Linked DNA regions of Homo sapiens: region 1 is linked to region 2. The links come from fine-mapping of genetic effects on gene expression. Tissue or cell type: whole blood. Region 2 holds a variant in brackets; the other region holds the start of a gene. All regions are shown on one strand. Distances are between the middles of the regions.

Evidence for each region. PIP is the estimated chance that this variant, and not a neighbour inherited with it, causes the effect.
Region 1: NCOA7 starts here. The variant in region 2 is fine-mapped to the expression of NCOA7 in whole blood (INTERVAL, PIP 0.92).

Annotation. Positions count from the first base shown.
Region 1 is chr6:125,786,918-125,795,104 of GRCh38, reverse strand. NCOA7 (nuclear receptor coactivator 7) reads right to left here and starts at 4,145. Exons shown (of 16, transcript NM_181782.5): 1 at 4,038-4,145. RefSeq lists enhancers at 3,563-3,662, 3,858-4,358, 4,359-4,859 and silencers at 3,883-4,722, 5,313-5,412.
Region 2 is chr6:125,834,256-125,842,442 of GRCh38, reverse strand. The region is part of intron 2 of NCOA7 (nuclear receptor coactivator 7); the gene reads right to left. Among named protein-coding and RNA genes, the nearest start is that of NCOA7-AS1, 19 kb to the right of the region's middle. The variant G/C (reference allele first, on the strand shown) is at 4,426.

The DNA.
Region 1 (8,187 bases), 47 kb after region 2:
TACCTGGGTAAATTCAACCAACTTAACAATTAGGTGTCAAAACATCAGTATGAAGAATTAACTCCAGGAGCTCAATCTTTTAAATTTCATGGTAAATAAAAGAGGCTCAGAGAAGACTCTGATTTATTAAAACAAGGATAAATCACATGAATCACTGACGCGAAGGTCAGATTGTCGATTCACTCTGGTGAGTGTTATGCTAAGTTAGGCTAGCCCTTCAGCTAAAAATGACTTTATTCTATTGAAACTCCTGTTCAACCTATATAGCGTTTAAGGCAGGTACTCCAAATATAATTGACTTAAATTGAATGGCTTTATTAATTTCAAATTAGTAATGAGTGAATATAAATGTAAGAGTTTAAAAAAAAGTTTTGTAAAACTATGTAACATTGTTTTCCATTTGGCTAAGTTCAAATGTACTAAATTTGCAATTCTTGTTCAAAACATTTAATGTAACCCATTAAACTTGTTCATCAAAAACATACTGTGTCCAGAGATCAATTGTGCAATGGCTTCATTTATTTGGTTTTATGTTTTATAATCTGCCTTGTTCCACAAAGGATATGAGTCATCTTAAAAGAATATAATTCAATCAAATGGAAAAGTATAATTAGATAAACATCAGAATCAAGAAAAACAAGGTAGAACAGAAGCTCAAGACCATAGGAAAAGATAAAATATTGATATTAGGTTATGAATTTTTATATGATTATTAAAATTGAGTTGCAAATTTGTTCATTTCCTAGTTGCCAAGTTAGAAAGGGAAATATAATCAATGATTTGATTCTCATTTTGCATGATGAAAAGAACACACACAAACACACACACACAAGTTGTTCAGGGTAAGTAAAGCTTTTCTTTGGCATTTAAAGTTAAATGGAATTTCTTGCATGAGTCTTCAAACAGAAACTATAGAAAGTACCATGATCATAACCACATTTCGAAAGTAACATAATAGTAAGTTTCCTCTGACTGTATTAATAAAATCCCTCAGTGTGGGCATATGGGGGGGTGTTAAGGATGCAAAACAAGGTACCAAAGTACAGCTTCTGAAGATCTGGCTAGACTTCTGGTCTAACAGCTAGTATTGGAAGGGAATAGGTTGACGTCATGGCCTTTGTTCAGCCAACCCCCCGTAAACATCATTTCTCTCAATTAAGCTTCTGATCAAATTTAGCAACAGAAAATTCATATTCTCTGGCATGTACAGAAACAAATGCATTTTGTATCACTGTTGAGGGGAGACCAGTAGACAACAATCACTCTTTATGTATTCACTATATCTGAAATTCAAGGTCATACAAATTTACTTCTGTATATTTTTTTCTGCAATCAACAATTCTGATTTTAGCACAAGTGAATTGAGTGGATCCTGTTGAATTTAAACAAACAAAAAATTATGGGCTGGGATTTTAAAAACAATAGTAAATGGCATTTAGCAAGAAAGGAATAGAGGTTTCTAAAATACAGCCTTTAGGAAGATAAAGAGAGGAAATCCAGGTCTTGGATTGCATTCTGGTGGTGCTTGTGGGGGCGGAGTGCTGGGGGATCAGGAGGTAGGACCCAAAAGTGAGTCAACCAATCCCAGAGGCACTGCGCATTTGGTTGTAGGACACACAGAAGAGAAAAATACCTCTTCAAATCTGAGATTAGAGCTTTTATTTGACTGTGATTCCAAAGCCAAAGTAATAGCAGTTAAACTGAGCAGTTAAAGGCTCAACTCCTACTTGTAAAATGAACAAATAAGTGCTTATAAGTAACAAGGTAAAGAGAGCTTACTGTAACCAAAGGGGAGGGCTTTTTTGAAAAGCTTAAAGTGTGCAAGGAAGAGCCAGGTAAATTAATTGCTCAATACCCTGGGTTACAAATTTAAGAAGTGTAAAATGTAATTATCTTTATTACAGGAGGGAATTTTGGCTTTGTTTTAATAAATCATAACAAATTAATTTTTTTCATAAGTTCCCTCCCACTGTTGGTTCCTGCAGTCTTATTAACTTTTATAGGAAAGTTTTATTTCCTTATCCATCTAGGAAGAAAATAAGTAGGTTGGAGAAGCAATAGTAATAAAGTATGGCCTACCATATTGTGTAAAAATAAGTCATTTGAGTAATATGAAGTGAAGATGGTAAAGATGCATTAAAATGTCAGAAAGAAAACCTGGGAGCATGCCCAGATAATATTGTTAAGCAGAGACTGAAAGAAGTTCACACTGACTCATGAAATTCATGTGATGGAAAAAAGATGAAATCAAAACAGAAAATGTCATAGTGTAAAAATAAAGCAAATAAAGTTTGATGCAGTTAACCTTGTTTTTCTTTTTTTTTTTCAAAATGATATAACATTTTAAAGCAGGAAGACACTGTATCTTGCAAACCCTCATTTCACAATCCCCTGGCTGTCAAATTTGGAAACTGATGTGTTTCTATACCGAGGAGAAAACAGTTTAAATTGTGTATCTATATCACACATTTTGAATCATTTAAGAATCACAGACACTTCTACATGTTTTATTTCTACTTTTGCCTGTGATAAAAGACATGATAATTAGATCAAACCTGAAAAACTCAACTCTAAAATAAGTGAATACATCACTTATTAACCAAATCATTGTTTCCTCTGGCGTAACTTACAATTTTCTTTAAAACACGACTTTTACTTTTTAAATTGTGTTTGAGAGCACAGTTGAAGTTGGCATGATTACCAGTGAGACTGGAAATTTTGCAAGCTTAGACATGAAATGAACTTAAGAGTTGGGGAGAATTACCTCATAACCTTGATGACATATTACAGAAAGATAGCATATGGTCCTAAAGATGTCAGAATTGAAATATAAATGTTAAAATAACTGAGTTTGCCTATTTATACAAAGAGGCAATTTTTGAAATTCAATTAAATTTCACCGGCTACAGAACAATTCTGTGATTCTAAATTGTGGTTTTTAGATGAAAGCTTGAAACACAGTTCATTCATTCAACAAATAACTAATGGGTACTTATTCTGCATAAGATGCAGAAGATTACAGGATTTAAAAAAAAACAGATTCAAGATTCTGTCCTATTTGAGCTTATACTGAGTCACTTCTCCAAATCTCTATACCTAAGTGACTATAAAATTGGAGCTTACAGTGATGCATTTTTCAAAACTTTAAGCCTTATTGCTGAATATAAAATAAAAAATGATAGTCTGGGAAGAGGGAATCTTGCCAAAAGCTCTGATGTATAAACTTTACACCTAGAGGAGAAAAAAAGCATTAATACATAACCAGTTTCTGAGAAATACAGAGCATAACATCGAGTTGGAAGTTAGGCTGGGCACAAGGCTGCCTCTGCTGGCTGACCCGGTACATCTTTCCAGCAGAATCTCAACTCCCGACACCTGTATCAAAGTTGCCACTCTTAAAACACATCCCTTCACGTAAGCAGAGGCTCCTAAATACTCAGCACAACAATATCCCAGCCTCATCGATCTCCAGAATAATCTGACTTCTAGAAGGACCTTCTCTAAATTGGCCCTAACGTGTTGACGGTAAGGGTTTGCCCCATCGATTTTATATACCAACTAGCTAGCTCTGAAATACACAAAAATCCACAGCGACTTCTACATGCCACTAATAACCCTTTGCCTGTCTACATGTTTTGGCTAGAAAGATGGGAAGAACGCATCTGCTAATCCAGCCGGAAAAACACAGTGACATATTTCCACCTGAGCTGCTGAAAATCCAACGGTCTTCTCCCCAAATAAGCCCCATGCCAACCTGTCCTCCCCACTCTCGTACTGGCGCGCACCCCCACGAGCCCCCCAAGGGGTGGGCGGGGAAGGGTCAATCTCTCCTTCGCCCCCGCTCGGCCTCCCGAGCTCAAGCAGAGGTTTTCAGGTTCACAGGGGGCTACGCCCAGCGCCATTAGCACACCTCCGAGCGCTCCACCGAGCCCCCGGCGGGAGGCAAGTTTGGCCGGTCCTGGACCCTGCTCGCGGCCTCTCGGCGGCAGCATCAGCGGCGGGCGGCGGCGAGGGCTGGGCCCCGCCTCACCACCTACCTACAGGGCGGGGGCGCCGGCTCCTGGGGTCCGGGAGAAGGGGATCGGTCGCATGCATTTCTGGGAGCGGTGGCCTCTGCTGCTGGGCGCCGGGGAGCGCATCCTCTCGGCGGGTGGAAGGAGGGGTCAGGGGAGGACCGTACGCCGAGGAGGAGCAAGAGGAGGAGGCGGGAGCTCCGAGGCGCGCGCCCGCGGGGCCCCGCGTCCGGATCGGGTGTGCGCAGCCGCCGCAGTCGGGGTGTCTTAGGCCTCTTCCCACGCGCGACGCCTCGCCAGCCCCGCAGCTGCGCCCCCCGTCAGGGCATGGGCCGCTACGGGGTCCCGGGCCCGGCTGAAGGCGGGCAGTCACGGGTGGCGCGACGCTGTGCAGACGCCCGCCTCTAGCTCCTCCCGGCCAGTGGCGCGCGCTGCGCCTCACAGCGGTTGCGGGGGCCTGGGAGCTCGCGCCGGGCTCTGCCGCTCGGACTGCAGTTGCGGCATCCTCCCCGCCCCCCGCGACCTCCGAGCTGGGAGGCTGGGCACCCCGGCTACCCGCGGCTGCTGCAGCCTCCGCTGCCGCGATCCCGGCGGCTCCGCCCCGGAGAGCTGCGCGTGCGGCCTCCGCAGGCCTCGGCCCTTTGTGGCGCCTCCCGAGTGCGGGCGCCTTGCTGCCCCAGCGAACCGCCGCCTGGCAGCGGCACCTAGGAGGGTCCTCTTACCTCACCCCGGGCCGCTTCCCCCTTACAGTTGGCCCGCCTGGCCCCTACTCTTCGTGGGAAGTAAGGCTTTGACAGCAGAGCAGGAGTTAGAGCTTTTCCCCAGCTTTAAAGCCCTTTGACTTTCCTTCCAGCTCAGGACCGATGGCCACAATAAATTCATCCTGTGTCCCTTCTGGCGTTGCGTTTAACAGAGGGGCCCACCATCTCCTTCCCCCTCCCGTTCCCGGTACACCATCCTGGATGCTGCCAAATTGCAGTCATTACAGCAATAAGAACATAGCAGTTGGGCCCTCCAGCCGACTCTTGGCAGAGACTCGAGAGAACCTTGGAGGGGGAAGGTTTGCATCAGCTGCGGGGCCTGTGCCTGTGAGCTCCCCATCCCCAGTTGGGTGCTGTTCCCTCTGCGGTCCCATGACCAGCACTGCAACATGACTAGGAGGATCTGGCCGTGGAGTTCATTCACTCTTATACGCAGAAAAATATCCCAAGGAAGGGCCTGCAACTACTCTGTTAACAGTGTGTTACAGGCCTTCCACACAGATAAACTAGATAGCAGCCTCCTCTGGGTTGTTGACGCAGCTTAAGCTGTAATAACCTCTCTGGAAGGCGGAGCAAAGCGTTAACAGTGGTGGCTTTGGCATTTCAGCAGCAGGTGGTCATGTTATACTGTCTTGCAAATGTGGAATAATTGCCCAGTTTTGCACTAAGCACGTATTAATTTAGACGTCAGGTTTATATCTTTGGGATTTGAATGTAAAGATGTTGGATTTTTTTTTTCTGTAGCCATTGTGTTATTTGTAAATTGTTTAGCATTTAGTAAGGGAAAATTAGGTTCCTAAAGTATAAAGAGCTGATTGCATTGTATCAAAGGAACATGGTTTGAGATCTCCAGGGAAGCTGAGCTGCTCTCACAGTTCTTTGATGAGTGCTTTTATGATTTTGCAATCTAAGGTTATTGAAAATCAGGCAAAAGAAAAACATGTTCCCTGGCAAGGACAAATTGTGACTAAATAGCTAAGATTTTTTGAGATAGTTCTTTTAAGCAAATTGAAGGTTGGGTGTGAGGCCCTGTGGGAGCTGCACTGCGCTTGTCCAGGAAGCACCCAGTGGGGTGTGACTTGGCTGCTTCCTGACACTGGTTGATCTAGAGCCCCACTTTATTTTCAAAAGATAACTATTATTATTTATGATATTTTCCCAAACTTAGAATTACTTGATTATAGGAATATGTATGTACATATCTGATGTATAAGTAACACGTTGAAGTCACTTAGGAGAATTTGGCAGTTGCTTACTCTTTAACAAAATTTTTAAGTTTTGAATGTAGTTTCTGAAGGAAGTGTCCATTGACTTACAAGTTTTCCCTGTTTCTCATCCTTTTACTATCAAGAGGCCCCTGTTGTTTTTCTCTCTATGGACTCCATGTTTTGTAAATAAATTAAGCAGTGATGTTTTTATTAGACAAAAACCTATAACTGAGTATGAATTTTTAAAGTTGTGACCATCAATTATAAAACGTCAGTCTTCTGGCCAGGCGCAGTGGCTCACGCTTGTAATCCCAGCACTTTGGGAGGCCGAGGCGGGCGGATCACGAGGTCAAGAGATCGAGACCATCCTGGCCAACATGGTGAAACCGCATCTCTACTAAAAATACAAAAAAAAAAAAAAAAATTAGCTGGGTGTGGTGGGTCCTGTAGTCCCAGCTACTTGGGAGGCTGAGGCAGGAGATTCACTAGAAACCGGGATGCAGAGGTTGCAGCGAGCGGAGATTGCACCACTGCACTCCAGCCTGGTGACAGAGCGAAACTCCATCTCAAAAAAAAAAAAAAGGTCTTCCAAAGATATTGCAAGGAATGTAAGAATCCATCTTTATGAACTCCTCTAGGACTGCATGCTGTATCATATGCTTCTTATAACATTTTTATTATACTGAAAGTCCTGATATAATAAAGATTTCTGCTCCCCAGCTAAGGGAGTACAAACTCCTCCTAAAGATTCTTCACTTGTTCCTTTCCATTAACTGATTTACCTAAGCCTTGGCTTTATAGATAAATCGGAAGAAATGAAACTCTTCCTTGCATGTGTTGTCCAGTACTGTATGCCTTAGCTACTTGTAGCCGTTTAAATTTAAATTATGGCTAGACTGTGCTTTTGGATAGCACAAACTAGAACATTTTCATTATTGCAGAAAATCCTTTTGAACAGTGCTGCCCTAAATAGAAGGTCAAATTTTAATTGGGAGATAAGATATAATACATGAAATAATTTGGGAAATCTTAGTATACTACAGATCAAACCTCAGTAGAAAGTGTACTTCTTAAGAACATGGTAATCTTTAAGAATTCAGGCTCTGGCTTCAGACTACAGCTCCACCACGTGCTGACCTTGGGTAAACTACTTAACCTCAGTTGCTTTATCCGTAAAGGATATGCTTTATCCATAAAGAATGGTAACAGTACCAACTTTATAGGGTGGATATAGGAATTAAAGGAGATAATCCCAAGTGGTTCTTAAAGTCTAGAATGTGGCCATCAATCAAAGGTATTACTAGAATAATATACTTTATTATGATAAAGTTTTTAAAAATGGTATCCCTAACACTTTTCACTGTTCTTGGCTGCGGAAGTTACTTGGTAAATGCTGAATTAATGAAAAAATATAATACCACACTGATTTTATGGCTGTGAGGGCCACCTTTAAATATGAAAACTGGCCTTTCTCTGTTGAAGGGTATGGGCCATTGGAGGATAATTTAGGTGGATTTGTCATTTAACTTTTGCAGGAATAAACAACCTTTGTATGATGAGACTTTGGAGTAGATAAGAGAAGCAGAGATCCCTTCCTCTCTTAAAGGAAGAAGAGAGGGATCACTTCACTCCGCCATTTGTTTGTTTCGCTGAGCCTGTGGGAGGCAGCTGGATCTCTGGGTTCAGGCAACAGGATTTCTCCCAAGTGATTTTCTAGAGGGCTAAGGTAGGCGGGCTTAGAGAAACATTGCCAAACAGTGGCAATCCTGCAAATGTGTTCGGTATTTTTCTTACCTATCTATCTAAAGACAATTCTTGTAATGAAGAAGCATGATTAGTATTTCTGTTTTTGAATACAACACTAGTAATGTCTCATGAAACTAGAATTCTAAAAATATTGGCAAATATTGCTGTAACATTGCCCAAATGAAAGGCTCCTGAGTCTCTGGTTGATCTAGAGCTCTACTGTATTTTCTTTTCTGTTTTTTTTTTTTTTTCTTCCAGACAGGGTCTCATTAGGTCACCCAGGCTAGAGTGCAACCTCCAACTCCCAGCTCCATTGATCTTCCCACCTCAGCCTCCCAAGTAGCTGGGACTACAGTCATGTACCACCACACCCGGCTAATTTTTGTATTTTTTGTAGAGATGGAGTTTCGCCATGTTGCCCAGGCTGGTCCCAAACTCCTAGGCTCAAGCAATCCATCT
Region 2 (8,187 bases):
CACATATATTTTGCTACAACAGCAATATATTGCAGTGACATAATTCTGGAAGAACAGCAAAATGTTGTTTTCTTGAAGACATTTTAGTCAAACACAAAGCATACTATCTTGAAAAATCTCAAGCAAGCACAAACTCAATGATGCCAGCGACTCTGTCATCCAATTTTAACTGACTTTCCCGTTAACTACTTAAACTGTAGAAATATTGAGGGAAATAAGGGCTAAAATACAGAATCCTGAAACGAATCAGTTTAGTATATAAACTAATACTCTACTGAAAGCCTCGTAAGGGAAACATAGTTTATGATCAGCAGAAATGGCCTGATGACAGAAAACACTTATAAGTAGCATAAAATTAGAATATGTTCTAGCTTAACTTCTCTCTCCTCTCAACTTTAAAAAATAAACTCTTATATTAATCTGACATTGCTTTTGAATAATTTTAGACATACGTACCCTTTTATGATAATATACTTTCATTGTCATAAACTAGAAGTGACCTCATAAATCATTCTGTCATTACAGGTACTTTCAGAAAGAATAATCTAATATCAGGTATGAAATTTTAAAACTTATTTTGGCAGATGCTCTCAATTTAGTTGGTTTACATCCAACATGTCCATTCAACATCTTAGAGGTATTTTTTCCAATTGCTACATGCTGGCTACTGCTTGGGAAGTGATGTTGCTCAAAAACAGAATTTCTGGGGTGGTAGACTGGTAGTACCTACTCTAAATTTTTTTCCTTCTAAAGTTAGTGCAGAACTCTGAGTCTGGATAATTCATTCACATGTAAAGGCAAACCCAAAATAGATTTTGAAGAAAAATCTTGGCCTTGCTTTCATCTTTCTGAGGGTGCATTTCCATGACAATGACCATCCAATCACAAGACGGTCTTGATCACGCTCTTAAAAAAAAATCCAACAATGGCCACCTCTCAAGTTACCAGTTTGATTTTAACCAACCACAGGTTGTGGTATAACAAAAAATAAATAAATATAATCATGCCTTGCTAAACGACAGGGATACATTCTGAGAAACGTGTCATTAGGTGATTTTGTCATTATACAAACATTATAGAATATACTTACTACAAACCCACATAGAATAGCCTATGACACACCTAGGCTATATGGTAGAACCCATTGCTACTAGGCTACAAAACTGTACAGCATGTTACTGTACTGAATCCTGTAGGCAGTTGTAACCAGTAAGTATTTGTGTATCTAAACAGGTGTAAAAACATAAAAGGTAGGCCAGGCGCGGTGGCTCACACCTGTAATCCCAGCACTTTGGGAAGCCGAGGCAGTGGATCTCTAGGTCAGGAGTTCAAGACCAGCCTGGCCAACAAAGTGAAATCCTGTCTCTACTAAAACTACAAAAATTAGCTGGGCACAGTGGCAGGTGCCTGTAATCCCAGCTACTCGGGAGGCTCAGGCAGGAGAATCATTTGAACCTGGGTGGCAGAGGTTGCAGTGAGCCAAGTTCATGCCACTGCACTCCAGCCTGGGTGACAGATTGAGACTCTGTCTCAAAAAAAAAAAAAAAAAAAAAAAAAAAAAAAAAAAAAAAAAACCAACCAAACAAAAAAAACCATAAAAGGTAAAATAAAAATATGGTATTAAAAAATGGTGTCCAGGCACGATGACTCAAGCCTGTAATCCCAGCACTTTGGGAGGCCAAAGCAGAAGAACTGCTTGAGCCCAGGAGTTTCAAGACCAGCCTAGAAAGACCCTGTCTCTACAATTTTCTTTTTTTTTTATTTAGCCAGGCATGGTGGCATCCTGAGTAGTTCCAGCTACTCAGAAGGCTGTGGTGGGAGGACCACCTGAGCCTGGGAGGTTTGAGGCTACAGTGAGCTATGATCATGCCACTGCACTCCATCTGGGGCAACAGAGCAAGACCCTGTCTCAAAAAGAAAAGAAAAAATGATATACCTGTATAGGGTCCTTACCATGTATGGTTGCTGCTCTTGGGGAGTCAGAGAGTGAGTGGTGAGTAAATGTGCTTACTGTGCTCTACTGCAGACTTTCTAAACACTGTATACTTAGGCTGCACTAAATTTATATAATTTTTTCCCTCATTCAATAATAAACTACCTTAGCTTACTATAACTTTTTTACTTTATCAGTTTTTAAATAACTTTTTGATATTTAGCTAAAAATATAAACACATTGTATAGCATACAAAAATATTTTCTTTATATGCTTATTCTATAAGCTTTTTTCTATTTCTAAAATTTTTAACTTTTTTGTTTTACTTTTTAAACTTGTCAAAAGCTAAGACATAAACACAGAGGGTCTACACAGGGTCAGGAACATCAACGTCATTGTCTTCCACCTCCACATCCTGTCCCACTGGAAGTTCTCAGGGGCAATAACACACAGGGAAGTATCCTCTCCTATGATAACAATGCCTTTTTCTGGAACACCTCCTGAAAGACCTGCCTGAGGCTGTTCTGTTTAGCTTTTTTTTTTTAATAATCAGAAAACACTCTAAAATAATAATAACTAGTGTAGTAAATACATAAACCAGTAACACAGTCATTTATCATCATTATCAAGTATTATGTACCGTAAATAATTGTATGTACTATGCTTTTCCACAGCTGGCAGTACAGTGGGTTTGTTTACACCAGCATCACTGAGTAATGTGTTGCACTATGACGGTGACAATGTTACTGGATGATAGAATTTGTTAGCCCCATCATAATCTTATGGAACCACCATCATAAATGAGGCCAGTGGCTTATGTGGAACATTACTGTATTTGGTCTTTGTCCCCAGGTTCCTGGCACAGACTTCCTAAAACACTGGAATCTCGTGAGTGATAAAGAGCGTCTTTTGTATTCTCATGAGATGACTCAAAGCTGCGGAGGGAGGGAGGTGCCTCGAGAGCTTCTAGATGGGGTCTAGCCACCAGAAAGATCCAGCCAGGATTAAAAGGTTGGAACTTTCAGCCCCACCCGACAGTCCACTTCTCAAGAGGGGAGGGGACAGCAGATAGAGTTAAATCACTAAGGCCTAGGCCTCGCGCAGTGGCTGACTCTTGTAATCCCAGCACTTTGTGAGGCTGAGGTTGGACTGATTACTTGAATCAGGAGTTCAAGACCAGCCTAGCCAAAATGGTGAAACCCCATCTCTACTAAAAATACAAAAATTATCCAGGCGTGGTGGCATGCACCTGCAGTCCCAGCTACTTGGGAGGCTGAGGCAGGAGAATTGCTTGAACCCGGGAGGCAGAGGTTGCAGTGAGCTGAGATTGCTCCACTGCACTCTAGCCTGGGTGACAGAGTGATACTCTGTCTCAAAAACAAACAAACAAACAAACAAAAATCACCAAGGGCTAATGATTTAATCAATCATGCATAGGTAATGAACCTCCAAGAAAAACCCTTAAATGTCGAAGTTCTGAAAGTTTCCAGGGTGATGAACACACTATGCGTCTGCGAAGGTGGTGCACCCAGAGAGGGCATGGAAGCTTGTTGGCACCACCCCTGAATCCCCCAACCTACCACCCCTGAGTCCCCCATACCTTGCCCTCTGCCTCTCTTCCATTGGGCTGTTCCTGAGTTATATCCTTTATAATAAACTGGTTAAGTGTAAGAAAAGTGTTTTCCTGAGTCCCCTGCGCAGTTCTAGTGAACTCTCAAACCTGAGGAGGCGGTCATGGGAAACCCCAAATTTGCAGTCAAGGTGGACAAAAGTACAGGTGGTCTGGGGACCTGGGACTTACAACAGAGCTCTTAAATCTGTGGAGTCTGAGGCTAACTCTGAGAAGTTAGTGTCAAAATTGAATGGAATTGTTGGACACTCAACTGGTGTTGGAGAACCAGAGAACACCTCTAGTGAAGGAAATAAAAGCATTTCACTCCAGAATATGCTTCTTTGACATGTTTTGAGATGGCTGTTCAGAGGGCTTGCAAACAGAAGTACCCCTGCAAAGCTGTCTTTCATGGGGGAGTTTTGCATCAATCCAGCCAGGTCTTCCCTTGTCCTGATCTAGGAAAGATTTAACTGAGAGTCGGACACCTTTAAAGATCTGAAAGAAGCATTTACCACCTATCCTCTCTGATGGCTGCCACCTATCAGGTTTCATCTGTATAACAAGACTACCTTCACAAGCCAGGCCTCCTCCTCTTCTTTCCTTCCCCATAATCTATCTTGCCACTGTAATCTTGATTTTTGGCCATGCCCTGAGCCCCATTCTTTCCGTGACCTCAAGATGGTATAGAAGCTTCTGCACCCCATTGTAGGCTTGGGTAAACACTTCATGGTCTCCCAAACACTTGGGTTCTCCTCATGAATGTTAAAAAAAAATTGTATGCTTCTCTCTTATTAATCTGCCTTTTATGAGTTCATTTTTCAGTGAAGCTTCAGAGGGTGAAGGGGAAGTTTTTCCTTAGCCCCTAGAGAGTTAAGGACTA[G/C]GAAGGGCTTTGTTATCAAAGGGACTGGCGTGTGCTCTACTCATTAAGAGGAAGAAATATGGGAAGGAGTCCCTTTTTAACACCGACCATGAAGTAGTTCTGCATCAGTCATACAACTAAGAGCAGCATGCAATTTACTGTCCCATTTTTCATGCCAATTTATATGTTCCCTGGTCTGGACTTTCCATTTTTAAATAGTATATCGTAATTTCTTTAATAAGTGCAATGATGAGAAAATATAATAGCATATGGATGATCTCAGCCTCCTTCCTCATGCTGCCTCCTAAGGGAACTCTGGGTTTGTTTCCTTTTCCTGGTTCTGAGCTTATGAACACAGGTGTGGGAAATGAATTAGGGGGAGAAGTGGAAAAAGAAATATAGTGAGAGAAGAAATAGAAGAAAATAAACCTAAAAGGAAAGAAGGGGAAAAGGTAAGGACATGAGGAGATACACTGACTGGATATGGGAAGGGTTTCAAAAAGGAGAAAGAGTTTGGGGAAGTAGCTGAGAGACATGTAAAAGGTCAGAGAGATGGAGAAAGAGGATTTTAAAGTTTTATCAAATATATGGCATTTATTACCCCCTTGGATGTTTTCTGAAAGGTGAAGTAAATATTTATTTTCAATTATTTTCTCTGATATACTTATTTCTTTGAATGTGACTTAATCCTGGGACTGGACCAAGGCATGGCTGGTTATACACAGGTGACACACGTGTACTTTTCTGAAGATGCCTTAAAGGTGGAGCATGTATGAATGAATGAATGAATGAATGAGAAACAAACTTCAATCCGGGAAAGATGAAGCAGGCTAATTATAAGTTATCTATGTCAAATTTCATAAATTGATATAAACCTTGAATCAGACCATGTTACATAGACTTTTAGGCTAATTTCTCAAGCAAAGTCGCTTTACACACATACAATGAGAGAAATCAAACTTCACTCAACATTTATCTAATTTAAAGAATAATGTAAGGTATTTTGTGAGGAGATAACTACCCCAAGACCTAACAATTCCCCACTGCTTGAACACTTTGCCCCAAATGGAGAGCTGGAATTTCCTATCATAAATGTTTCTTCATACTTAATATGTCACCTGGCACACACAGGTGCAACCAACTTCCTAATATGAAATTAACTAAGTTATCAAGCACCCTCTCCAGTAGCAGACTTTACCAAGAAAGTTTTGCTTTGATTTTACTACGTGTTCTTTTTTATTTTTTAGTAGTTGTTGATAAAAGGCAAGGTAATTTCTCATAGATGTGTACTTGTTTATGTGGTTTTAAATGTTCTGCTCCCAGGCATTCCTTTTAATTTCAATACAGTTTCTAAAACTCTCTTGAACATTTGTAATGTTGGAATAATAGTCATCCAAATTTCCTGTGGATTTCCATACTCCTGCATTAAGCCATAAGAAAACTCAGCTGGACTTTATTTTGGCTGAGTTAAAGGCGGTTTTGAAGAAAACCAAAATGGAATGATAACAATATTTTATCAGATGGGGGAAAATAAATATGTTTTTAACTATTACTGAGACTCTGCAGGGAGTATATCAGCTACAGTTCAAACAAAAGCCAAATCAGGGAAAATTTCATTGCTGTTTGTATGGATTAGACCAAAGAATCTTCAATCTTTAATCATCTACATCAAAGGGTCCCTTAAAAAGAGGGGCTCAATATTTTAACGCATGTATACATTACAACTTCACAATGGCATCAGCAAAAATGAAAATTCATATTTACCAACCATTATGTCCCTGGCATGACAACTATACATTTTTTAAAGTGCTCTTTATTCATAAATTAATTTTTCTATATTCAGATACTGTTTTAGTGGAGTTGTGGTATTAAACACTAAATTGAGTTTTCTGAATTCTACATAAAGCTGTCACAATATTAAAAATTCTAAAACAGTTTAAGATGAAAATATAATTACCTAAACTAATGAAAGAATTTGTACCTTTTCCATTTTGTTTCCAAGAAGCGTAAATCATAGAATCTCAAGTAGGAAAGTTCTTTAAAGGTTATCTTGTCAAATCATCCATTCAATGATGGAATTAACTATGATATTTACAGTGACATGTACAGTGTCTAAAAACTCACTGAGACTCAAAGCATGTCATTCTCCTTTTTAAAAGCTTTAAATCCAGTGCCTAGTACAGTGCCTGACATACTACAGAAAACTGCAGTAGATTTCAATGGCCTCCCTACAATCTATTCCTTATTCTGTAATACCAGATCTGGGTAGGACTCATCCTAGCTCCAGGAAGGACATCTTTATGTGGGCCTGTCCAATCAAAGCACTGAGTCTCTGCCTCTGCCAGTGGCAGCCACTACTCCAAAACCTAGCACCGGCTCTAAGTTGGTCCAATCCCTGTGAGTCTCAGGACTTGTGAGACCTAATAGCAAGCATTTGCTTTGCCTGCTGTTGCATAATAGAGATTCTGACTTAGCAGCATTTATCAAGTAAAGCCTGAAAAAGGAAGCTAAAAGAAAGGAAGGATTTAGATACAGACAAACTGAGTCATAATGACATTATTTGAGTCCCAAATCCAGGCATTCCTGATGTCAAATCTTATCTGGGACTTTTTACTTATGTGAACCAGAAACTCCATATTCCTTTTTTTTTTTCTCCTAAGGTAGTCTGATCTGTTTTCTGTTACTTGACCTAGAAAGGGGAAAGAGCTTCCTGACTATTACAGGAATTTGCGTAAGTAAGGTTGCTCCATGCCAACAACACAAAAATGTGGATTGGCTGAGCTGGGTTTGGATGATACTTGGAAACTTAGCAGTCTTTATCACATGAAAATAACATGGATAGCTGTTGTATCTTAAGATTAGATTGTGTGCCTATCAAGGCTGCATTATTGGGGAACTCAGGAAATTTTAAAGATTCTGGAATAAGTGTTCTACCTCTTTTAGCCTGAGAAAAGAAAAGAACTTTTATCTGGGAAATATACATCCTTTTAAATTATCAGGCTGCAGAGACACTAAAATGAGACTGCAATCACATCTTACTTCCCGCTGGAGCTATGTATTCATCTCCAGAACCAGCCTGCTATTGCCACAAGCAGCTATAAATTAATCTAATAATGCCACACCAGACACTATAACTTAATGCATAGCCAATCACTAATCAATGCTATTTCTGTAAGCCAACAAGAATTCCTGGCACATCACTTTGTATCAGCCCACTTCCTATCTCTTTTTTGCCTTTAAAAATCAACTTGTAACTGCTGCTAATCAGAGTGTATATTCAGGGCATCTTCAATCTATGCTCCTGGGCTACAATCCTCAAGTTTGGCTCAAATCAACTCTACCTGCATTAATTTTGCCTCAGCTTCTTCCTTTTAGGTCAGCAAGACTTCAGTGAGGTCTTAAAAGAAACACGCAAGCTTGAGATATCATTGGTCTGCTAAAGTAGAGTGAGATGAAAGCACAACTCTGCTAAGAGAAAACCTCTGTCTGTGGCTTGCAGCAGCTGAGAGTCTGGTGACCCTGGTTAAATAACAACCTCTTAAGACCTCAGTAGCTCACCTCTACCAAGAAGTTAGCTTAGGTTGTTTTTAAGATATTTTCCATCCCTAAATGTCTATAACAATAAACAACTAAGTAAATAAATGAATCTAGATCATATGGGGATTATCTGATGAACAAAAATCTTCCGTTTTTTTAATCAAACTTTAAAGAATTTTCTTTTACCTACAAGGGATTAATTATACTATGTTCACATGTATTTAATAAGTATTATTTACATTTTAA